Homo sapiens: one gene and its partner. The protein of the gene in region 2 interacts with the protein of the main gene of each other region in a pairwise test. Each region holds a gene or a part of one and is shown on either strand. Other genes may lie near its edges.

The links.
Region 1: the proteins of EOGT (region 2) and SLC7A14 interact in binary tests that used the Homo sapiens proteins (3 or more experiments, as listed by UniProt).

What each region holds. Positions count from the first base shown.
Region 1 is NC_000003.12:170,573,402-170,586,171, reverse strand, and holds the start of SLC7A14 (solute carrier family 7 member 14), read left to right. Parts: upstream 1-96; 5' UTR 97-261; intron 262-12,770. UniProt on the Homo sapiens protein: Imports 4-aminobutanoate (GABA) into lysosomes. May act as a GABA sensor that regulates mTORC2-dependent INS signaling and gluconeogenesis. The transport mechanism and substrate selectivity remain to be elucidated.
Region 2 is NC_000003.12:68,972,266-68,985,035, forward strand, and holds the end of EOGT (EGF domain-specific O-linked N-acetylglucosamine transferase isoform a precursor), read right to left. Parts: intron 10,608-12,770; coding exon 10,546-10,607; intron 7,523-10,545; coding exon 7,403-7,522; intron 6,171-7,402; coding exon 6,068-6,170; intron 5,500-6,067; coding exon 5,353-5,499; 3' UTR 2,960-5,352; downstream 1-2,959.

The DNA of each region.
Region 1 (12,770 bases), about 100 Mb from region 2:
GGGGTTGGGCAGGCCATGTGACTCCAAGGAGGCGGAGACAGGCGAGCTGGAGGGAGGACGAGCAGGCACGGGGAGGGGTTCGGGGGGTGGGGGCCCAATCTGAATAATTGAGGAGCTGTTCAGCAGCAGCGGCTGCCTCCTGCCTTCCTTTGCCGCCACCACCACTTCCCATCCCAGCTAGAGAGACAGCTCCGCGCAGTAAGTGCGGACTGCCAGCCACCAGCCTTGGCAGCCAGCTCGTCGCCTCCAGCCCCGACCCCGGTAAGTGAACGGCCCCCTTCGCTGCCGTTTGTCCCCCTCCGCGCCCCCCGCGCCCCAGCGGGACCCCTGCAACTGGGATGGCCGCCTCTCCCGGAATGACCCAGGGAGCCGGAGTCACCGGGAGCGGGGGACCAGGAATATGGCGCGGAGGCCCAGGGCGCCCTCCGAGAAGGGGTTCCCTGGAAGAACCGAGGAGGTGGGTCGGGCTCTTTCCTGCTCTGGCCCGGAATGAGGCCCCGACTGCCCGCGGTCTGGGGGCACCGGGCTCTGACTCGCGGGAGCTGCCGGGCGGGGCGGGGGCCAGCGCGGCTCCGGCGCCGCTAGAGCGGGAGGCAGAAGGGGAGCCGCGAGCGGAATGCGGGCAGCCTAGGTCTCGGCAGACGCCGGGCCCGTCCTGTCCCCCGCCTTGGCGCGCACCCCGCACGGGCAGCTCCGTTCTCCGCCTCGGACCGAGACCATGAAACGGAGACGCTTTTCCGGCCGCAGACTCCGGGGAGGTCGGGAGCAACGTCTGCCCTTTTACCTGGGAGCAAACTCCTCAAAGGGACTCCCGCCGAGCCCAGCACCCCGACCAGGATGGTGGCGCCCCGAGGGGCGTCTGTCCCCGGAGAGTGGTGACTCTCCCGGGAGCGGCGAAGAGGACGTGACGGGAGCGGTGTCCAGGGAAGCTCCCTGCCCAGAGCCGGCAGCCCCAGCAAGGGGAGCTCTCCTGCACTGCTTCAACCCTCAGTCTCCTCTCTTCTCCCATTCCAAAGCACATCAGCTCCCCTCTAATCCAAGAGGGCCAGGTTAGGGCTGCGTGGCCACGCGGGATGCAGCCCCCACCCTCCTTCTCTCTCCTGTGTCACCCTGCCCCCTCCCCAAATGAGTATTTTATATTGCGATTGAAGAGTGAGCAAAGCAAAGGCGAGAAGAGATGCAGGAAGGCTAGAGCAGCGGGGCTCGCTCCTGTTCTGGCACTCCTCATCCCCCCACCTGTGTGAAGCTCGTTTCCTTGAGATTTTGAGCGGAGACACTCAAAGGAACTGGCTCTGGCGAAGGGATCCCCGCCTGAGTGTCGGTGAACGTCACTGGCCCGAATTGCCCAAGGGCCGCAGGATGTCACCCTGCCTCCCCCTAGGTATAGGGTCTAGGAGAGCGCTGGGGGCAAGGTAGCTCTCCTCCTCCGACTGAGTGCAGGGAATGGCGCTGTCCGCGGTGCTGAAAGTTCTCAGAGGCTGGGTGCTAATACCGCCAGGGCCCACATTCCCTGCGAGCAGAAACTGCGTTAGAACCCTAAAGGGTTCTAAGCAAGCGACCTAGAGAAACAGGAGAAGAAGGGGCTTTGCCTTTCCCGGTTTTCTGCTTCCCCAGGACTCCGCTTGGGAAAAGGTTCCCGGCTTTCCTGAGTGGAAGAGCAGGAAGCGGGTGTCACTTCAGGATCCAGTTTTGCTAACTTCGGGAGCTTCCTCGTTCTACTTCCTATACCTGAGCAGTGAGACTTCCTGTCGGTAAAGTGTTGAAAGGCAGTTAGGGATGCTGTTTTGATAATAAACATTTCTGTGGCTTTCAGGAATCAGAGAATTGTTAGGCTACACAAAGGAGGGGCTTCATGGTTGTAGCTTTTTCCTCTTCTTAGAACCCTTCTTTCCCCACTGCATGTTATTTACATGCTCTAGATAAAGATCGCTAAGCAGCCCTGTATGTTTGTTTCTTTAGCTAGTCTTTTATATTATGGGCAAGATGGGGAAAGGATTGAGCCAATTTGGGGAGGCCTATTTGTACTGAACACCTCTATCTGCTGGGTAATAATATTTCATTTAAACTTCACAATAGCTGCCAACCAAAAGTATCACACAGAGAAGGAAACAGAAACTTGATTCCAGAGATTGGATTCAAAATCAGATCTATTTAACTCAAAGTCCAAGCCATTTTCATGCCTTCATTTTGGTATTTGGCTCTGAATAGCTGTTATTGGAGATTATAGCAGGAGAATGACAAAGGAGGGAGGCCTGCTCTTCTCTTTCACACACTCTCCTCTCTTCCAACCCTTTTCTCTTTAATCCGTTCACCCACTCACTGTCATGCACTCCCACCCTCCCAACTGCTTTTGCATGCTGCTTGAGATACCACTGTTCACACAACTTCAGCTCCAATATTATGGAAACAAGTTAGAGAACTAAACCAGCAGCCTTTTCTAAAAGAGTAGCAGGGCTTCAGGAAGTCTGGAGAACTAGAGTCCACATGTACTTTCATATTTAGAATTATACTGTTGAATTTTAGAACTAGAATAGCTTTGAATATCATTTAGCACCATCGTTTTACAAGAAAGAAAACTTGGAAACCAAAAGATGGTCATTAGTCTAAGTCACATGATTGAAAAATTAGAACCCAGTTAACTTGATTCCAGGCCCAGGGCCTTTCCCACTATTTCATGGTGTCTGAAATACTCTTCCATACTGCTTTCTTTGATTATCTTTGACTAAACGTCAGCATCAGTGAACTAAATTAAACAACATGCCAAAAATACAAACACTTAACATACAAGCATTCCTCTTACCTTTCTTCCAACTCCTTTGTCTTCCAGCTCTTTCCCCTCTGGTCCTACTATTCCAGTGTTGTCTAACCCAACATACCTGGGAGATATGACCCACCTTCCTCAGTAACAGTTTTCTCTGAAGCAGCAATTCACAAATGGGAATGGTAGTGTGTCATTTCTTTACTTGCCCTATCTTGTCTATATCTCCTCTTCTATGACCTATTCCCCAAAAAATAATTTTCCCAAAATTGGTTACCCTAAGCAACTGCCCATGTTCTCATAGGGACTGGGAAAAGGCCCTAATAAGACCTAAGGATTTTTATAAATAAAGATCATTATAAGTGCTAATATCTATGAAATGCTTATCATATGTGAGGCACTATGTGAAGTTATTTCATCAATCATTTTACTGAATTATCACAATTCTGTCAAGTAGGTGGCTCCACTAAAGATGGTCCTAGGATTCTAGTTCGCTCTAACATACAGCAGAACCTGATGTTCTGTTCATTTCCTCTTTCTTCTCTTTCCAGCTCATAGTAAAGTCTCATCTTCATCAATTGGATTTTTGTATTTAATTGATAGTTCCATCCTGCTCCAAAACATAGCATTTAGAAATTCAAATTCAGTTCAAATGACACTGTTTTGCTCTCTCATCTCTTAATATTTACCAAACATATTCTCCCCATTTGTTATCTCTTATTTAAAAATTCCCATATGGCTTCTTATTGATAATGTCAACATTCTGCTTCAAACCTTCTCTAGAGCCAATTAAGGTATAATTTGTAATTAAATACATAACTTCTATTGTACCTTCACTAGGTGATCTGTCAAGAATGCTATTGCTGAGGTGCTCTGGGCCCTGTGAACCAGAACCTTAAACTGTCTAGAACTGCTCTGTCCAACATGGTAGTTGCTAGCCACATGTAACTATTTATAATTAAATTTTAATTAAACTTTTTAAAATTAAAAATTTAGCCCCCCAGTCACACTAGTCATATTTCAAGTGCTCAATAACTCTATATGGCTAATGACAACTGTGTTGGACAGGGCAGATATCAGAAAATTTTTATCATTTAAGAAAGTTGTGTTGAAAAATGCTGCTTTAGACAGTACTAAACACACCCTCACAGCAACCAAGAACTAGGAACTGGGAAGAAGTAAGGACCTACTCTTCTTTGAATCTTCTGCCAAGAAAGAAAGAAAAAGCCACTTATGCCTAATACATCACCAGTAGCCCAAAGATACCTAGGACAATTAGGCTATGAAGGAGTGTGCATGTCTTACTTAAGGAGCTGGTAGCCTCTGGAGTTTGCTTCATATGAATTCTATGTTACTATAAAGTAAAATATTCCATGAATGAGGTTTGCTGGTTTCATGAATTTTGACTTAGATACAATCTGAAAGTTCCAATTCAAAATCCAAGTTTATAGATTACATGTATATGTAATAACATGTGTGTGTGTTTATCTTGTCTTAGTAATCATAGTATGATAGACATGGAAAGAATATAAGACTTGGAGTCAGTAGTACAGGTGTCACATACTACTTGGTGACATTATGAGGCCCTCTAGAGCTCCATTTCTCCATCTCTAAGATGTTGATGAGAATTGCCATAACTATCTCAAAGGACTATTGTAAAACTCAAAGTGTAGGTATACGAAAGTACTTTGTAAGGAGCATGATTGAATCTGCAATGGTTTATTATTTTATATAGATATGGTACAATGTACAAATAGGGTAGTTCAGGCTGAATGCATTTCTGAATGATTTTAATCTGATATGACTGTATTTTTGCCTTTGTGGTCATTTATTTCACTGAAAAGTGGAACGGTGAAGAAAAAATTTAGTTATTGAAATTTCTGATTGGTTAGATTCTATTAATTGAAATACCGTGCATTGTTTGTTGTTTAGTTTATTTGGTCCTGAACATTTTCTTCTCAGGATTAAAAAAAATAATAACTAGGAAATCTAAGTTGTTTGGAACAGCTTTTACCTTTTAACTAATAGTTTTTAAGTAATCATCAATAATGAACCCATCATGGTAATAGGGGTTCAGAAATAACAAAATACAAGCATTATGGATATTCCTCAGTGTGAGGGGGTGAGAGGGATAATTTTCAAAACATATTTTTACTAATTACAAATTGAAATGAGCTTCTATCCATTCTCATAGATCAATCAGAACAAGAATAATTCTATTTCATGCATTGATTAAACCAAAACAAAAGTGAAGGTCATTAACTTGACTGAATTATTGAGTTTGCATTAGGGATTCTAACCTTAAATAACAAGTCTTTATTCATTCTCTAAGTTGAAATCTGTTGGGGTCATTAGGAGAACCTTATGCATCTGGCTAACATTTACTCCCAAACCTGGCATCTATGACCTACTCCCGCACTTTGATCTGTGTATGCTATTTATGCGTCAAGTAAAACTGCTTTTCAGATGCAGCCATACCTTCTATAGTGGCTCACGATTTTGATACTTAAATATTTTTCTCTTATAACACAAAGATTAACACAGTGCTCAGATATTGTAGAAAATAAGCCTGGAAACAAAGCTATTCCATCAGATGTTTCTTCACTGTATTTATTAGGTTTTATCATCTTGAAAACTCAACGAAGTCACTTTATTTATTCATTCATTCATTAACAAAGCACCTGAGAATCAAGCTGAGTATGACCAAGGGCATGAGGTTTTATCTCCAGTTCCAGAGATCTAGTTTACCTTTGTTTAGAGTTAACAAAGGTATAGATGCTACCTTGTAAGATGCTCTGCCAGGTAAATAGTTGAGATATACACTTAGCCACTGTTTCTGGTCAAGCCTGCTGTCCTCAAGCCTTTGTTGCATATGGGACTATATTACTGAAGGAAAAATAAGCGAAGCTGTTAACTCTGGCCTCTAGTAGATGATGCTAGCTTTAACAATAAACATATGTTGTTGGGCGTCATGATTTATTCACTTCATTGGACTTGTTTACCTCTTGGAAAGACCTGGATTTTGGAAAGGGGAAAATGCCATTACCTTGGAGCTGAAAAGAGTTCTTCTCTGTCTGTAGCTTAAAGGATTTCTCTAATTGTAGATCCCAAGAGATAAAGAGAACTGACAATGTAGCTTTGAAACAAATCCTAATAGCATACAATCATCCATTTAATCAATAACATAGTTGAAGAATGTCCTATTTTGACACAAAAATGTTGTGGTTAAGGATGTTTGGAACACATGGATGATCAATAAATATTTGGTGAATTCAGACCATTGTTCCAGGTTAATTCATGCCATACACTCGTCTATCTCTACCAAGAATTCAGTATTCCCTATGGCATTTTCCTTTAGCAAATAAAACAGGAGGCAAACACAGTATATCAAATCTTACCCTAATAACCACACTTCTAGCCCTTCTCGGGGCATAAATAGTGATGGCCAAGATAGACTACTCCTGAGAACCGTGTCTTGCTGCTTCACCCAGAAAACAAAGCACAAATCAGCCCAAGGGCCTTGCATTTCACTGTGATGAGGCAACTTCAGAAACTCAAAGCTTAAATGGAGTTGTGTGTTCTTTTCCACTCTTATCTTGAAGAGATACCTGTCATTTCCTTCAGAAAGTATTTGGCTGGCCTTCATGATAGCAGCAGGCAATTGCTATTGTTCCTAAATTCAGAAGAAGCTTAGCTTAGAATGAAAGCACATATATTAATTAGAGGAGAACTAGCGACATTGCAGTCTGATGGTTTACAGAATATTATCCTTTTCCAGGAATAATAAGGCTTCCCTTTAACGGTTTTAACTGGTGATTACTGACAAAAATGAAAGAAAAACAGCTCATTCTATTCTAGCAAGTCAATAAGGAAACGCCTAGAATTAACTGATTCTTATTTGCCAAAGGCAAAATATTCCAACCCAATGAACAACAAATGATCAAGCTGGTTCTCATTTTCTCTTCATTTTAAAAAAATTTTTCCATGTTTTTGAAAAATAATCAGTAAATAAGAAACAATTGCACCCAGGTGTTTAAACATTCTGTTGACAAAATGGTCTTCAGAAATGGAAAGGCTTAATTGTTTGTTAGAGATTATACAACATATTATTATGTCAATATTTTATAACAATCACATAACTGAACTCTCTCACTTTAGAGAGAAATTGATGCTGGGAACACTCACCTGAGTTGATGTCAGAGGAATATGACTTGAGTCTTCTCTCTCTCAGGCAATTATAGAACCCACTCTGCATTTTTTAACATCATGCATCATTTCATTAGTCATGAAAACTTGTTTAGTCTATGAGTTTATCAAAGATTCAGGTTTATCTTTTCTCAAAGATTCAGGGAGTAGGAAAGAGTATGTGTTTGGATTTCAGATTATTTCCCTTTGTACCTCCAGGTGAAAGAACTACTGGTCAAGGATGGTCAGCAGGTAGAAATTTCAGGGGTGGAACTATAAGCCATAGAAAAAGATTCAAAACCTCAGCATCATCCATGTTGCAAGAACTTAGGCAAGGATTTAACTCTTCTTACTTTTTAATCTTCATCCCTAAAAGAAGTTATTTAGATTAAATAGTGTACAATATCCTGCAAGCCATAACATTCTATGGTTCGATGAAATAGGGCCAAGAGCTTGAATAATCCATTATTTGCCTCCTTAAGACCGAAGAATTAAACATAAATCAAGATTCTTATTTTTACATCATTATTTATCAGAAGTTCTGAATTTCATGCTAGTACCTTACCTGGAAACAATAATGATAATGATAGCTAATACTTATATACAATTACTATGACTTTATAAGGTTGGTAATGCTATCATCGCCATTTTACAGATGAGAAACCTGGATACTAAAGTAGTTAAATTACCTGCCCAATTTGACACAGGTAACAAGTTTGTGCTACCATGCTACACCGCCTCTATAAAAACCACAAATCTGACAGATAGATAGCTGATGTGTGCCATTTATAGCCACTTGACACACCAGCCAATTCTCTGGAGAATTTCTATTTTAGCTCAATTTTTTACTAGAAGAGCAACCAAGATGGTGAATAGAACTTCAGTCCTGTGTGTGGGAATCTACATTGTCTTTCTGTAAGATGGCTCTTGTGCTTTTGCAATTGATGTCATTGACCAATTGTTTACGTGATTCAGCATTGAATGTTGGTGCTGTGCAGGTGGCTGCATGTGGTGAGGACCACTCTTCTGCCTCTTCCCAGAATGTGTGGCCAGCCACACCACCAGAAATAGATGGATGCTGGTGCAGGATCAATCCAGCACCTTCTAATGCTATAAAGGTCAGCCCACCACATCTTTACTGTTCAGTAGAGTCTTCTAGCTTCTGCCTTTAGGTTTTTGACTCAGTGTAACAATCTAGACAGCTTTTACAGTAGAGAGGGAGAGCTCCCAGAGTGTCATTTCCTGGAGGTAGGCTTGGGTCAAGGCTAAGACTAAAACTTTCAAAATCATGTTGTGAAAATCGTTTTCTTCTCATTAATCCTATGTTAACAAATTAGTCATAAATACAATACACCACAGTACCCATCTGTTTCACTGTGTATTTCAATGTACTGAATATACAAATGGGCATTTAGCTCTTAATATGGTATATCTAACCAGCTGAGAATGCTCTGACAGTAGTCAAATATACATGTTTATTCTTTAGCTCTAGTTTCTGGCTTGTTAAACTAGCTACATATCCCATCAACACCAAGGCCAATTACGGAATACATAACTCTACTTCTTCCTCTGTGGTTTTCTTTTTTTTTTTTTTTTTTTTTTTTGAGACGGAGTCTCGCTCTGTCGCCCAGGCCGGACTGCGGACTGCAGTGGCGCAATCTCGGCTCACTGCAAGCTCTGCTTCCCGGGTTCACGCCATTCTCCTGCCTCAGCCTCCCGAGTAGCTGGGACTACAGGCGCCCGCCACCGCGCCCGGCTAAGTTTTTGTATTTTTAGTAGAGACGGGGTTTCACCTTGTTAGCCAGGATGGTCTCGATCTCCTGACCTCATGATCCACCCGCCTCGGCCTCCCAAAGTGCTGGGATTACAGGCGTGAGCCACCGCGCCCGGCCTCCTCTGTGGTTTTCTAGATACTCTGTGGGGAGCGGGATGGCCTAGGAGTCAGAAGATCTGCTTTCCAGACTCAGCTTTGAAATGTACTACCTGTGACACTTGGGCCAGCACCATTCACTACTTCAAGACTGAACTTCCTTACCTTTAAAATAGGGGTAATAGATCTTGCCCCTCACATTACAAATAGGGCCAGTGAGATGGCATTAATTAAAGCTCCTTGTTAACCATAGAGTTAGTCCAGAGGAAAGAGATGGGTTTTCCATCCTTTCAGTCTTTCCCAGCCAGAAATTACTCTCAAGCTGTTGATACCCAATTCTGAACCAGGGTTGACAGCTAAATCAATGTCTTCAAGGTTAAGAAGAGCTTGGATTTAAATTTGTAAATCTAGAAAATGGCACTTACAATAGGAGAGGCCTCCTGGTTTCTTCCAAATTAATGGTCCTCAACCTGAGGCAATGTCACCTCAATAAGGGGTATTTTATATTGTCACAGATACTGGAGGAGAGGGGAGTTACTACTGACTTTTGGTGGACTGGGATCTAGAATGTTAAATATCCTGCATTAGACAGAAAAATCCTGCAGAATAAAAAATGTCCTGTCCAAAATGCCAATAGCACTCCACCCCCACTGAAAAATACCGCTCTAAGTAATGTGCTGTTCCTGGTCCCTAATTCTCCAATTGATGCAGACAGAGAGCGTTTACTTTTCATCTCCACCCACAGGTGAAATCCAGCCATGCTCATGTGAGGTCTGTAGTAGTTATTGTTCAGAAGTATGACCAGACTTCCAGTAAGTTTACCAATAAGTAAAACAATGGGGTCAGAGATCAGTGGTTTTAAAATTAGCCCCCAGAAGCTCCTACAAAAAGCCTCCTCCAACCTCTGCAGGGGCAAAGATTCCCAGCAGGTTAATATGCCTATAATGTGAGAGCTGGCCTAAAGGTTGGCATTTAGGGATGCAAAATCAGTAAATCATGATTCTAAAATGACTATCTTTGCAATTTATTGAAGAAACATTGTAATATTCACTTGTTTTATGACAAGCATGGGCCTAGCTAGGCACTGGATATGAGACATAATCCCTGCCTCAAGTCACCAGTAATCTGAAAGTTCCACAGATGTAATCCCCACTAATTATGTATGCAACATGACACATGCTATAACATATTATGAGGGAGCCTCCAAGGAGAGACCAGGAAACAATTCACTTCCACAGAGGAAATTATAATTGAACAGTATCTTGAATGGTATATAATATTTTTTCAGGTGGATAAATGAGAGAGAAAGCTATTGTAGAAATGGGACCAGCATAAGCAAATGCTGAAGGTGTGAACAGAAATGATACAAGTGCAGGCTGACCTTATCTGGCTGGTGGGAGGTCATACTGGAAGGACTGAAGAAACTTGAATACAGATAGGTGGATGTATTTATTCAGCCAGGGGCTTATCCTTTGAACAGGGATTTTATGAGTATCTTAGGAATATCATTTGAATTCAGGGCTCATGGAGTCCAATCTTGTAACTAGAAGAAATCTCAGAAATCACCCTACCATGCTCTTTTCCCTATGTATTACAGTTGAAGTAGTTAAAACCCAGAGATATTGAGTGACTTGCCCAAAGTCAGCTAGTAAATTTGTGGCAGTATAAGAGCTAGAACCTAGTCCCTCCTCTCAGTTCATAGCATTTTGTCCTGCTCTGTGCTGCCTTTGGGAATTTTAGCCATCAATTGAGCATAACCCAATGTAACACACAAAGTGACTACTAAATATTCATGAAGCTCAAGTTTTCCATTGTTCACTATGAAGCTATACCATTGTTCCTTAATTACAAGCAGGTGATAGATAAGACCCTGCTTCTACATTCTGAGCTCCTTCTACATACAGCATTCTCTTCAGAAACACAGACAGACAGTACACTAACACATGAGCATGACATCCTTTGCCTGCCACACACATCCTCCCCTGCCTCCTCATTTCAAACTGCCAGAGATTATGGAGTCACAGCCTGAACAGAAGGCATCTTAATCTCTGGTGGTTCTGTAAATAATATGCTGTTCATGCTTGCATATAAATTATCACAGTCTCTCTATTTTCTAGATGAGGGAGGCTTCAGAAAGATGAAGCTGCCTGCACACAGAGCACATAAGAGATAGGATTTCAGACTCCAGAGTTTCAGCCCTCTTTGTAACAGGGTTGAATTTTTCCCTCATCTACATGCTCCTAATAATTTATCCAGGCTTATGGTCTTAAATTTCACCTTATAGCCAAATTAATCTAGTCTCTGTATATTTAGGTTTCTAAAATCAGTTACTTCTTACTTCCCTTTCTCTCTAACCACTTTTCCTCCACCCTTCATTCAATAAGCATTTAATAGAAATCACCTAAGCTAATCCATTCAGTTGATGAGAATAGAAACTGAGACCCAGAGAGGTGAAGCCACTTGCCCAGGTTTGCTCAGTTAAAAGCAGTACGGTGACTAGATTCCCTGACTCCCAGTCCAGGGCTTTGCCCTTCACACTATACTGCTATTTCCCAAGGATAAATAACATGGCATTTCCCACTCTCAGGCTCCCTCACTCCTTGCACAACCCCACAGGATGGATAGAAATGACTGATTGCATGTGCTCTGAGGTTCATTCCAGGACCTTTTCTAGAATTCCCACAACTTGTTATCCTTCATGCTGTATTGGCCCATCTATCACATTAAGAAGCTGGTTAGGGAAGAGTTTGACATACTTTCTGGTCTAGGATATTTATGATCAATGCCACCACTCAGGTAGTGATCACCATAGGAAACAGTGTGCTCAGGAAGAAAAAGGGCAGAGTCCATGGCTCCCATCATTTGAGAATAAGGCAAAGCTCACCCAGAGTTTACTGTAAGTGGCAGGATATTAGATTCATAATCCCAGAGACCAGGCAATTGGGCAATTAGATGGATTTAAGCAAGATTGGGAGTGGCCAAGAAAGTGAAAAAAGACAACTGCCAAACCACTTCTGCTTCAGGGGCAGGGTATTTTGCCTGGATTGATCACCATGATGCATTTCATTACTGTAGACAAAGATCACATTGATAAAAGACTTTTTTAAATCAATTGAACTAAAATTTTCCATTTATACATAACTTCTCAGGAATCGTTTTAAGACAAAACCAGATGGTATTTCAGTAAAGATTATATTGAAAAGAGAAGCAAGTAAGAGAGGAAAGAAACCCCAGAACTAGCTTCTCAGGTAGGGCTTTGTAGGGTCACAATTGTCTCACAGGCTGATCAGGCTAATTAGGTACAGAAGCTTAATTTTATCAGTTTTATCAAGAGTGATCCAGCTCTGAAGAATCTAGCCATGCTCCCCAGGTCCCAAGAGACTGATTTGTTAGCTAGATGCCAATATAGCCACATACAATAGAAGATGCTTCTAAGTGTGGCCCAGGCTATTTCCTTCCTAATAGCAGGACCATGAGAAAACCAAATGAGTGGTCAAAGATAACCTGTGGGCACAGTGTCAGGATTAATGGAGTGGGACAGACAGTCTTGTGAAATGTGCCATTCAGGCTGCAACAGAGACAAGAGAACTCTTCCAAACTCCACCCAAGAACACTTTTCAGGTTACCAGAATAGTTGTGTCCTTCAAAAACAGGGTCTTGTTCTCTCTGTTTCGCTAGTGGTGAAGAAACTGGCAAATTATTTTGGGAAAAGATGGAGACTTTATCTAGTCTTTATGCAGCCCCCATCTTCCTTAGGGTATTATTCTAGGCATGTTATAATACTCAACTCATAGCCTATCTTACTTGTGTCAGTGACATCTTGTCCAAAGCCCCTTACCAAATCTTTGAACTCCTGGGCCTAATTCTCTGCTAAGGCAATGAAGATAGATCAGCAAAATCATTATCATTATTCACGTACTTGTATAAGATCCATTACGATTAGTCTGCTTCTGAGAA
Region 2 (12,770 bases):
TGCATTCCCCTAAGCAGCTTCTGTCACTAGAAATAATCTTCTGGGGACCAAGTGCTCTTCCCACAAGATGATCAGGAGATACTATACAGGATCCAGCTATTGGCGGCAGCTAAGCAATTCCACACTTAAACCTGAAAACGGTCCGTTATCATTTTCCCGCCTTCCCTCAAATCAGGAATAACAAAATCCATCACACTCAGAAGCAAGGCCTTACTCCTAACACTCGGGTGCCTGGAATCTACAATGAGATTCAGACACAGGCTTCAGACCACCCAAGAGGCCATTTGGAAGGGCTTGACTGCCACCTTGTGGTCCTGTGCACTACCAGCCAAGGCGAGGGCACACAACCAGGGAGAAACAAACCGTGAGCAAACTGCTCTAACCCACTTCTTCTGTTTTGACAAGAATGGTTATAACATCGTTTGACATGTCCCAGTAAGCCGAAAGAGAACAAGGTATTAAAGTATTCTCGCAACAGCCCTTGCTTGGGAGTAGGTTATTTTAAACAATTGCTTTCTCCAGGGCAATCATACCTGAGTTGATTTGTGTATATGCTCCTAGTTTAGAAAAAGCAAGTATTTTCCGTATTTTCTCTCTACTGACTAGGTTTCAAAAAAGAACTATTTTGGGCCAAGAGTGGTGGCTCACACCTGTAATCCAAGCATTTTGGGAGGCTGAGACCAGAGGATCTCTTAAGCTCAGAGTTTGAGACCAGCTTGGGCAACATAGTGAGACTCTATCTCAACAAAATATGAAAAATTATCCGGGCCTGGGGGTGCATGCCTGTAGTCCCAGCTAGTTAGGAAGCTGAGGCAGGAAGATCACTTGAGCCCAAGAGTTTGAGGCTACGGTGACCTGTGATTGCGCTGCTGCTCTCCAAACTGGGTGAGAGAGAGAGACCTGTCGGAAAACTAAAAAACAAAACAAAAAATTCGTTTTTTAACGGCAAGAAAAGGCCCAACTCCAGGACTGTTTTTTCCATGTTCTATATCCCCCAACTAATTTCTCCCTTCTCTTTCCCTCCCTTCCTTCCTTCCTCCCTTTCTTCCTCCCCGACCTCCTTCCTTCCTGCATTACATGTAAACATCCCTACCTAACTCAAAATTCCTTCACCAAGAAAGCCCTATATCCAATCCTTCTGCTACTGGCTGTGTGACTTTGGGCAAGTTCCTTAACCTCTATTTAAACATCTTAGAACGGTTTTTACATTTTTAAAAGATTGCAGGAGGAGGGCAACAAATAATAATACGCAGCAGAGACCATATGTGGCCCACAAAGCCTAAAATATTCAGTCAGCAGTACACGGTATCAACTATAAGTATTCTTTAAAAACAGACATTCAATCTGAATCTTAAGGAGACTTTAGATCCAACTTTCAGTTGACAGGAAGCAGGAGGGAGAGTAAGACAAGCTAAACGGCACCTCGGCACCACCTCACCCGCTAGTGAATGTGCCGCTGAGATCCCCTTCAGACTGAAGCACTCAGTCCCCAGATTGCTTGACATTTGGCTGCTGATGGGTCACAGCTGAGCTCCTCACCAGGCCTTGCCCTCAGCTGAAGGAAGTGGCCTTGCTAAGGCCCCACCCCTCTCTGGGATGGCCCCTGTTTGAACTTACGTGCATTTCTTGCCTCGTGCATTTCTTGCCTCATTTGGGGACCTCACTGAAAGGCCACTCCAGCCCTACAGCACCCCGCTGAGGCCTCACCTGGCATTGCCCCTCAATTTCTCCCTCTGCCCAAGCCTGGACCCCTTACACCCTCACAGGTGTTGATCGTGAGAACCTTCCCCCCAAAAACTATCTGCATTCAAATCTCCATCCCAGAATCTGTTTTCCTAAGACATCCCTCCACACCCTATTCTCAGCGTAACAGCTAGAGTTAGTGTGTTAGAGATAAGGCAGGTCTTTACTACTTTACTCAGATCCCTTCAATGGCTTCCATCTCATCAGAACCTTGCCATCTACACCCTTGTTGCATTATCTCTTGACTTTGCCTCCTACTCCTCTGCCCTTGATCACACCAGCCACACTGGCTTCCTTGCTCTTCCTCAAACATACCAGGCATGCTTCTGCCTTGGGGTCTTTGCACATCTTCTTCTAGCTTCTTGGAATGCTCCTTGTCCAGTTATCTGCATAACTCCATCCCTCACCTCCTTCTAGTCTTGAGTCAATGAAGGCTTCCCTGACCCCCTACTTAAGTGTGCAGGACTCCACCCCACCCCAGACTCCACATCCCTTTCTTTGGTTTTCTCCATAGCACGTATCAGGATCTGGCACACGGTACATCTTATTGATGTTATTTAACGTCTGTCTCCACCAGAATGTAAGCTCCATTATGTTGTTTAATGTCTGTCTCCATCAGAACGTAAGCTCCATGAGGGCAATAACTTTTATCTATTCTTTGCTGTATTCCCAGAACTTAGAATAGTAACTGATACAAAGTTGCAGCCCAATCAATATTTACTAAATGAACAAGTAAATAAACGAATGGAAGACTGTGAACATGGAATCAGAAGAAGGCTTGTGATCTTCAGGGAAGTCCCATAACTTCCCTAAAGTGGAATGGAAGACTTCCCTAAACGAATGGAAGACTGTGAACGTGGAATCAGAAGGCTTGTGATCTTCAGGGAAGTCCCATAACTTCCCTAGAGTGGAATGGAAGACTTCCCTAAACGAATGGAAGACTGTGAACGTGGAATCAGAAGGCTTGTGATCTTTAGGGAAGCATTCTTCACATGAAAAACAGGAACCATAATTCTTATGTCATTTTGGTAATGATTATACAATATAACATTTATAGAAGCATCATGTAATAAACTGCTAAATAAAAGGCATTTTTGATCAAACTGAATTCTTCATCAGAGAGGTACTTAATTTTTATAATCTAAGAGCTACCAGATTGCCAAAAAGGAAGCACAGAAACATTCAGACACAGAAAACCTTAAAAATGGTTCTGATATTCAAATAAAATATAAAATGATTTATTCCAAAGCCATACCCAAAACATACAATGAAATACATCCCTGTTAAAGACTTAATAAAAAGAGCAATCTTTACATTTTACAATTTGAAGACCTTCTGTTCCCACAAAAAGTCTCATAAAATTCCATAAAGTGTCAAATGTATTTTCCTGTTTATATAAAATGTATTCTCTCTTCAAATATAGCCGTTTTATTATGAAATTGTTCTCAATTTCTGAAATTCTCAGTAGTCTATAGTATCCCATTTTCACATGCTTCTTAAAATGAGGTAAGAAGACAAACGGTGAAACTTTTTTCAGATCATTTTTTCAGAAGTCAATGCCTTGCTGATGCAAAGCGCAACATGCTTTTGTCATCCCTTTCATCTGAAATATTTTCCCAGTGGTTACTCAGTATTTTGCACACAAAAAACAGTTACAATACCTGCCACTTAAAAATCCATAACATGTTGTAATTCTTCTTATGTGATTTTAAGGTCTGAATCAAAGCCATTGCTACAGTGATTCACTATTTTCTTTACAGGTATTTTAATAAATATTCCTCAATTCTAGAAGACTGTTCCAATCCTTTAAAGTGGGGGTCAGCAAACGTCTTCTGTAAAGGTCCAGATATTTTGTTTTGTGTGTCATTTTTCTGATGGATATTTTTTACAACTGTAAAATATTTTTAAAAAATTATTTAGCTATTCTGTAATTTGTTACTCCATTATTTTAAAAAATAGAAGTAACTAGTCTCTAAATCAGACTACTCAAGTGTTAATAAAATGTAAACTTCACATTGTGCAGTAAAATAAATCCATGGTTTCTGACTACTAAATTGAAAGTTCATAAGCAGTAAGAAATGAATCCCACTCAAAGAGTGGGGCTACATTCCAGATATTCTTTTTAATCAATGACACTGTTTTAGAGCTTCTTTTTCACTTTCATTGAATAAGTCACATGTCTTTAGTTTGTTTTTTCTTGGTCTTACTTTTCACAGGGAAAAATTCTCTTCATGAGGCTAATTTGAAGTTTTTGAAATTAAAGACTGGAATACTTTCATGCTGACAGAGGTAGACGCACACGCACTGGTATATGCAGTTACAAATACTCGCATAAAATGGAAACCATTATTTCATATATAAATTAATTAATCACAAATGCTCTCCATGGCTAAGAAGGAATCAGTGGAAACCAGACAGAAGGTATGCAAGACAGTCCTACAGAATGTTCTAATTTGCTTTTATCACATGTAGTTGCTACATTTTAGGAAAACATGATTTAAATATGAAACATGTAATATAAATTAATATAGTGGCATGATTTATTCAGGTTCTCGATGCATATAACCTGGAGGTGACTAAACGCTGATCTATAACATGGTCCTATAGCTTGGTACTGAGAATCACAACTCTGCGTGTGTGTGTGTGTGTGTGTGTGTGTGTGTATGTTTTGCATGTTTTCCTTTCCTACCACAAACAGTGTTATAACCAGATTATGGCAAATAAAAGAACAGTTGTAAATTTACCCAAATATATCATAAACAAGTTGGAACACTCTGGAATTACAGTCATATGATATTCTACAAAAATATTTACAAATTCTAAAGCTGAAAAAGTTGAAAACTTTGGTATTCCTAAAAAGAGAAAGTTCAGGGCCATGCGTGGTGGCTCACACCTGTAATCCCAGCACTTTGGGAGGCAAGGTGGGAGGATTTCTTGAACCCAGAGTTCGAGACCAGCCTGGCCAACATGGTGAAACTCCGTCTCTATCAAAAATACAAAAATCAACTGGGCGTGGTGGTGCACGCCTGTAATCCCAGCTACTTGGGAGGCTAAGGCACAAGAATCACTTGAATCCAGAAGGCAGAGGTTGCAGTGAGCTGAGATCATGCCACTGCACTCCAGCCTGGGTGACAGAGTGAAACTGTATCTCAACGACAACAACAAAAATTTAGCCAGGTGTGGTGGTGCAGGCTGCAATCCCAGCTAGTCAGGTGGCTGAGGCAAAAGAATCGCTTGAACCTGGGGAGGCAGAAGTTGCATAAACTGAGATCATGCCACTGCACTCCAGCCTGGGTGACAGTGAGACTCTGTCTCCAAAAAAAAAAAAAGAAAGAAAGAAAGTTAAAGTATACTGGGGAGTCCATGCTTAATTTTTGAACTATAAAAAGTTTTCAGTGCAAAATTATTGCTATTGATAAATAGCAATGACACAAAAACCACATGAAACACTTAACATCTATACAACACATAACAATATCCTGAAGGTATGTTTTGGCATAGAAAAGGTAATTCGGGGATAGGAAATAACAGATTGCTTTACTGATTTAATTCTAAGTCTGGGTGTTGGAGTGTTTAAACACTCTCTTTTTGCAAACAGACTCAGCATATTTATAGCTCATCATGTTTCTTCTTAAATGGCCACTTTGGGTGTTGCAATACGTGGTCTGCAGCCTGAAGGACAAGATACATAAATTCTTCTACATCGAAAGAGTAGTTGGTGAACTTCGGGTGCTCCCCCAGGGTTGGATGGTGGCCCTGTGAAAATAAACCAAAACACGAATCCATAACTCAATGAGGGCATGGTTTTCTCTACAGCAGGAAAATTATGTTACTTTGGTTAAGGCAACTAATTTATGTTCTACATCAGAGACCAGCAAACTTTTCCTGATAAGGGCCAGATGATAAATATTTTCAGCTCTGCTGACTCTAAGGTCTCAGTCACAGTTACTCCACTGTCGTTGAAGTGCACAAACAACTAGAGACAGTGCATAAACAGACAGGCATGACTGTGCTTTCTTTACAAAAACATGTCATGGGCTGGATTTGCCCACAGGGCTGTTGCTTGTTGATCCCGTCTCTATATATAATCTAATAGATCTTTCTAAGCCCAAATTTCACGAAGCTGCCTTTGTAACATTAAAGATATAGGTTGCTTAATTCCCCTTTTTCTCCTATTTGCAAATATAAAATAAAACAATTCAGTATTCCAGAGAACAGTTTATCTTTGCAGCACTGAAGTTCAATAACCATTTTTCATATCAATAATTGGATACTTTAAACCAATTAAAAATGAAGCAAGGTAAGTTTTGTGATTGAACTTTACCTTATCCTGAGGAAAGACTTTGTTCTGCCGTCGCCAAGTGATGTAGTGAACGCCTCTCAGCCTGGCCAAGTCTAAGTAACAGCGTTCATCTTCACAGTTGTACCTAAGGACACAAGGGTGTCACAACATGAGGCTTTTGTCCAAGGTTTTTTCCAAATCAACAACTCTGCGAAAATAAAATGCAGCTCCCAAATATGTCCTTGCAAAAGGTTGTAAACAAGACTGAGGAAGACAGTAAACAAGACTGAGGAAGAGAATGTAAAAATATTCTCTGAACTAAATGAACTTAACTTTTAAAAAACAAAATAGGGTCATGGAATGGAGAGAATTGACCTTATTCAATAGGGCCTGCTGCCTATGGACTTGGCATGACCTTATAATACCTCTGTCTTTAAATGTATGAAAGAGGCAAGGGGGATAGGTAACACTTCCAAGGTCATATAACTAAATAGTGAAGGATGCAAAAGTAGAACCCAGGTCCATTAGACTATAAGGCTTGAGTTTTCTCAGTTACATTTCTCTCCCTTCTCTCTCCTTTCTTCCATCCTTCCTTCTCTCTCTATAAGAGAAATGACAGAGATAGAATCCATTATCTGGCTATTTCTCTACATATATCATATATATTTTTGAAATGTTTTGCAGGGCATTGGAAGTTCATGACAACTTTTTTCCTAAATAGCCTCCTATTTAAATACAGAGTCAAATCACTTTTAAAATGAAACCATAGAACCCAGATATTTAGACATAATGGGGGGAAACAGGTAACAGTAACTGCTATTAGTGTCTCAAGACCTAAAATGGAGCACAGTGCCAACAGCAGAATTATTATGAGAGGGAAGGTCATGTCTCCATAAACCAACCACTGAGTTAAAAGTATGCCCTGGGCAAATCATGAACACCCAAGGGCCTCAGTTTCCCTGTGTATGGGATCAGCAAGCACTAAGTTAAGTGGTTGGCTTGTGTTTTGAAGCTATGTCGTGCATGAGACATAAATGCTTTCTTTTAACACAATAACTACACTGTTTGCAAGAAGACGCTCAGAGTTTGGGAGGTATGCAGGAACAAACTCAGAATAAGGAAACCACAGATTCACATCTTCCATATCATGCTCGGGATGGGAAGATGAAGGGGTAGTTGGCTTACTAAGTGCAATGGCAGGCTGCAGACTTTGTATTTTTAGCTTCAGGCCTCTTTTCTTTCCAGATTGTCTATATGATGTGACTTCTCTTTTTGAATGATTAAATATTAAGCCTTTTGATGCTCAGAATGAAAGCTTTAGCATGCATAAAAAGCATTATCAGTTGCTTCAGTGTAAAACTGCCTCCCAACACTTACAGTTCAAATACAGCAGCCCAGTCTGGAAGGAAAAGTAAATGGGTCAGACCAGCTCCATGCATTCCAATAAATATGTCCGTGTTGTGTGTGATCCTTAGTTGATCTAAAAACCCAAGTTCTCTGTGAACATACAGAATAACATGAGAGAGATGGGGAGAAGAGAGAAGTATTAGGTTGAGTTAGTTCATGATTCACAGTAAGGATATTTATAAAAGTGTATTGCCCATTTTAAACCACATTCCATTTTTAAGAAGCATTTTTGCCAATTTCAAGTGCGCTCTAGTAATTAATAAGTTTCTTAATAATTTAACATATTTTCTAAGTAAGCTCACCTATCCTTTTAGGTTTAAGTACTTTTTTTAAAGGAAACTTTAATATCTGTCTTAAATGGAAAAGCAGTGACATATGACATCAACAAAACTGTAAAAATTGATATAATCAAACTAAGTAGTGTTCAAATCGAGGTAGATACTATTGCAAGACAAAGCTCAGAGCCTGAGGCCTGCTCTTTCTTCATGAAAAAGAGAAATTGGCAAGTGTTAAAGAGATGTTGTGACACACTAGCACTAAATTAAAAACTATTTCCTTAGGACAATAGAAGCACTTTTTAAAAAGAAACATTTCTCCTTGTGTGATTTAAGTTTTTATAATGCCCTCTGGGTACCTCCAAAATGATCTCAGATACCACCAGGGCATTATCCTGCCTTTGGAACAGACAAATCCACAATTTTATGCATGTTAGGACTGTACAAGTGTTCTCTAAATCCAAGACACTAACCAGTGTGTAAACTTTGAACCAAAAATCAGTCCCCAAACAATTCACTGAGGTGAGGCTAGGGAGAAATGCTGGAATAAGGGTGACACTCTGAATAAACAGAAAGAAATGAGATCTCCCAGCCCCAACTTACCCAAAGTAAAGAAAAATAAATGATCAAGATTATTTTGGATCTACGAAGGGAAGCTGAATTCCCTTTTACACCAGCTAACAACAAAAACTCCGCATAGGAAAAAGATGACAGCTCCATGTGTATGTGTATCACAACGAGAACATGTGCCTCAGTTTCTCCAGGAATGTGAACTGATGCCAAGGGAAGGACGGCCATTCACCCAGGTGAACATACCCCTGCACTGCCAGTTGTGGAAACGCCTGTGGTCAGCACTCACCAATCCCCATGCCAACATGTTACTAGTATTTCCCGCAGACTGGCAAGGTACGAATTCATTATCATTCTTGCTTATCTGAGAAACTACAACATATCCTTAAAAGCCAGTCAATGATACAGCCTCAGAGGTGCCCTGCCCAGTTCTTTCCATTTCTTCCCAGCCTCATCTAGGTGAATGGTTTTGGGACTGATGTGGGGGCCCCATATTGGCTCACTCATTTCTTCAAGCAACACTGACACAACATTTCTTCAGCGCAGCAGATTTTACATAATCTGTAAAATGGGACTAGCTGGGCCAACTCAGAAGACTGTTGAAAGCGTGAGATGAGATAAAGCAAGTAAGCATAAAAGTACATTTCGATAAATAGTAGCTGTTTTTACAATTGCTATTTACCTCTATTCAGTGTCTGAGATCCTCAAGACCAGGGCTATGCCATCCGCCATAATGGGATTCCTACTGCTGAGACTGGTGACCAGCTCATGGGTCCCCAATAGAGATTTATTGCACAAATGAACTAATGTATGATGAATGAAGTGCAAAGCTCCCATGCCAACATTCTCTGAAATTAAGTGTATCTATATTAGATACCCACATGCTGGGATATGTATACTTCTTTTAACTGGAAAGTGTTCACAGTGTTAGATTTGGGAAACACAGCTGTGACTGTAGGTGGACATGGAGACAGAAGTTTTCACTTTTCCTTTTGATCTTTTCTATACTGCTTGACTTTTCAACCAGAAACATGTACTACTTTTACCAGGAAGATGTAATTCTAGCAACAGGAATTACCCAAACTGTGAATAATAGGCATATTCTGTCTTTCTAAGCCTTTTAGTTGTGTTAAGAGTTTTAAAAGAAATGTAAATATTTGGTAAGTTTTTTTAAAATTTCATGTTATTCTGACCCTCAAATTATCCCCATATAAATAATTTTCAGTCAGATGTTGAAATCTGGCAGGAGGCAGGGCAAATTAGGTTTATAACATCTAAATTTTGATAACTTTTTTGTTATCAAACATTTGATAATGTTATCAAATATTTGATAAATTTTATAACACCTAAATTTTGAACTAGTTGCCAATTTTTTTTTTTTTGAGACAGAGCCTCGTACTGTCACACAGGCCGGAGTGCAATGGTGCAATGTCAGCTCCCTTCAACTTCTACCTCCTGGGTTCAAGCCATTCTCCTGCCTCAGCATCCTGAACAGCTAGGACTACAGGCACACGCTGCCACACTCGGCTAATTTTTTTTATTTTTTAGTAGAGATGGGGTTGCACCATGTTGTCCAGGTTGGTCTTGAACTCCTGAGCCCAGGCAATCCACCCATCTCAGTCTCCCAAAGTGCTAGGATTACAGGCGTGAGCCATCGTGGCCAGTCTGCCAATTTTTTAAAATTATGAAATTTTAGGCCGGGTGTGGTGGCTCATGCCTTTAATTGCAGCACTTTGGGAGGCAGAGGCGGGCAGATCACTTGAGGTCACGACTTCAAGACCAGCCTGACCAATATGGTGAAACCTCGTCTCTACAAAAAATACAAAAATTAGCCGGATATGGTGGCACACGCCTGTAGTCCCAGCTACTCGGGAGGCAGAGGCAGGAGAATTACTTGAACCCAGGAGGTGGAGGTTGCAGTGAGCTGAGATGGCACCACTGCACTCCAGCCTGGGTGACAGAGCAAGATTCTGTCTCAAAAACAAACAAACAAACAAACAAAAAATTCTGAAATTTTAAATGAAAATCTGAATTCATCACTTCTTTTGAATAAGGAGATGGAGTGACAACATCAGGCCCCAGAAAGCCAAAGAGTAACTGCCCTTGTTACCAGGGACTTCACCTGCCCATTTCATTCATCTGTAGTGTCTACTTGTCCCTTCTGGGCCTACAAATGCCAATGGCTCCCACTGGAAAAATGCTTTCTAGCCCCCTTGACCTCATCCAAGCAAAAGTTGACAGTGTCTGCTGAGATTGGCTATTACTTACCTATACTTGTAATCAACAATCTGGACTTCAAATGTAGATACTGTTTTCAGTGCATTTACAAGCTGGGAAAAAAAGAGAAACATTTAGCATTTCTTTTCCTTCTTTCACTTCTGTTTTTCCCTTATGAGTCCTAAAATTTCTTTTTTTGCATATACTATTTCAGATATTAAATATCATTTGGTAACAACAACAACAAATAAAAAGAAAATAAATAAATATCATTCAGGTCAATAGTTCTGAACTGTCATTAAGTTCAAATCCAGGCCCCACCTGTGAACACACGACTCTACCTCCCTCAGATACCAATGCACTGTGTTGCTGTGAGGCTGAAAGGAGAAGACAATTCAGGGAAGTAAAGTGCTAGGCACAGAAATAGCTAACCATTAACTGTTGTTATTACCATTTGCTTATTATTCCCTCAACTTTCAACACACATTTTTGGGCATCAGAATGCCCAAAATGTTCTAGACTTTACCTTAAGAGTTTTTGCCCCATCCATTATCTCATTTCAGACAACACTAGCGCTTTGAACCTCATCCTCTGAAAATACTAAGGTCTTGGCAGAAAAACATTTTCAGTACTTCTACATAGAAAAACAATTATTCTTCTAGCAAACAGAAAGTAACAAAGCATTGTTAATCTATTATCAAAAATATAGTCATGGTTCTCTGTCCCTCACAATTAGGCCACGGGGGATCACCACCATTCAGAAATTTCTGCAACTGTGTCATGTTGCCTTGTGGCATGCACTGCACTGCAACAGCAACATCAACAGTTGCAAGTATCATTGATGGGGCATGTAAATGGTGCTGGCATTTCTAAGAGTGTCGTTAGGTTTACTTCACTTAATCCTCGTAAGAATCACACCAGTGGCTGGGCGCAGTGGCTCACACCTGCAATCCCAGCACTTTGGGAGGCCGAGGCGGGCAGATCACCTGAGGTCAGGAGTTCGAGACCAACCTGACCAACATGGTGAAACCCCGTCTCTACTAAAAATACAAAATTAGCTGGGTGTGGTGGCACATGCCTGTAATCCCAGCTACTCGGGAGGCTAAGAGAAGAGAATCACTTGAACCCGAGAGATGGAGGCTGCAGTGAGCCGAGATCGTGCCACTGCACTCCAGCCTGGGCAACAAGAGCAAAACTCTGTCTAAAAAAAGAAAAAAACATACCAAATATCATACCAAGTAAGTATTAGTACTATGCCCACTTTACAAATTAGACAAGATAGGCTCAGAGAAGTGAAATAACTTTCCCAGGATCTCACAGCTCCCAAATGCACAGCCAAAAATAAATCTAGGTCTTCTGACCCCAGAACCTGCGTTCTTAACCAGTGCACTCTATTGTCCTGCTTACAGAAAGCAACAAGCAGTGACCAACATTTAATCCCCTCCCCTCTCTCTCTCTCTCTCACACTCACACACACACACACGCACACAGTCATAACATGGAAATTTCCCTCTCCAGACAGCCACTGAAATCTTATAAAGAGTTGAAGGGGTAAGAAGATTAGAATTCTGTTTTACAGGAGAGATGGCAGATGGCATAAGCCTTGGTCTTTTAACAAGATTGCCCACATAAAAGGAATCATGTGTGCTGACGGTCTCAGGGCAAGCATGCCCTTTTTCATGACTTCTAGTTGCACGAAAAAGGTGGCCCTATCCCTTCCGATGGCTATTCAAACCCTAAAGTTGGGCAGAATTCCACAAGCCATGATTTAATGAGGCCATTTGGGTTGATTAATACATACCTGTTTATTAATCAAAGTATAGCCAAAGGTGCTTTCTTCCCTTCCCAGGAGCTGCCTTTCTAGTAACATCCAATCCTCAAGAAAGAAGCAGCCAGTTGGGTGCTCTTTGGCTTGGAGTTGGGGGCTGAATGATCAAATTTCGCCTTTGGGTGCCATCATCTGGGCAATGCGCATGACTGGATCTGAAAACCTCACACATGCACTAAAGCATCTACCAGCACTATACCTTTCTACTGGACTTCTCTGCAGTGGCCTGATGTTGTTCCTCAGCCTGCCCCTTCCTGATGGACTGGGGCCAGAGGTAGCTTCTGCCTCCTCTGAAATCTATTTGCTGTTTTAGTAGTAGCACACTCTGGCTAAGAAAGCAGTTTCAGTCCCTGACTACCTTGACTCACGCCCCCGTTACTCTAATCACCAGCCGGGTGACCTTAGGCATGTTTTTTAACCACTGAGCCTCAGTGTCCTTGTCTAGAAT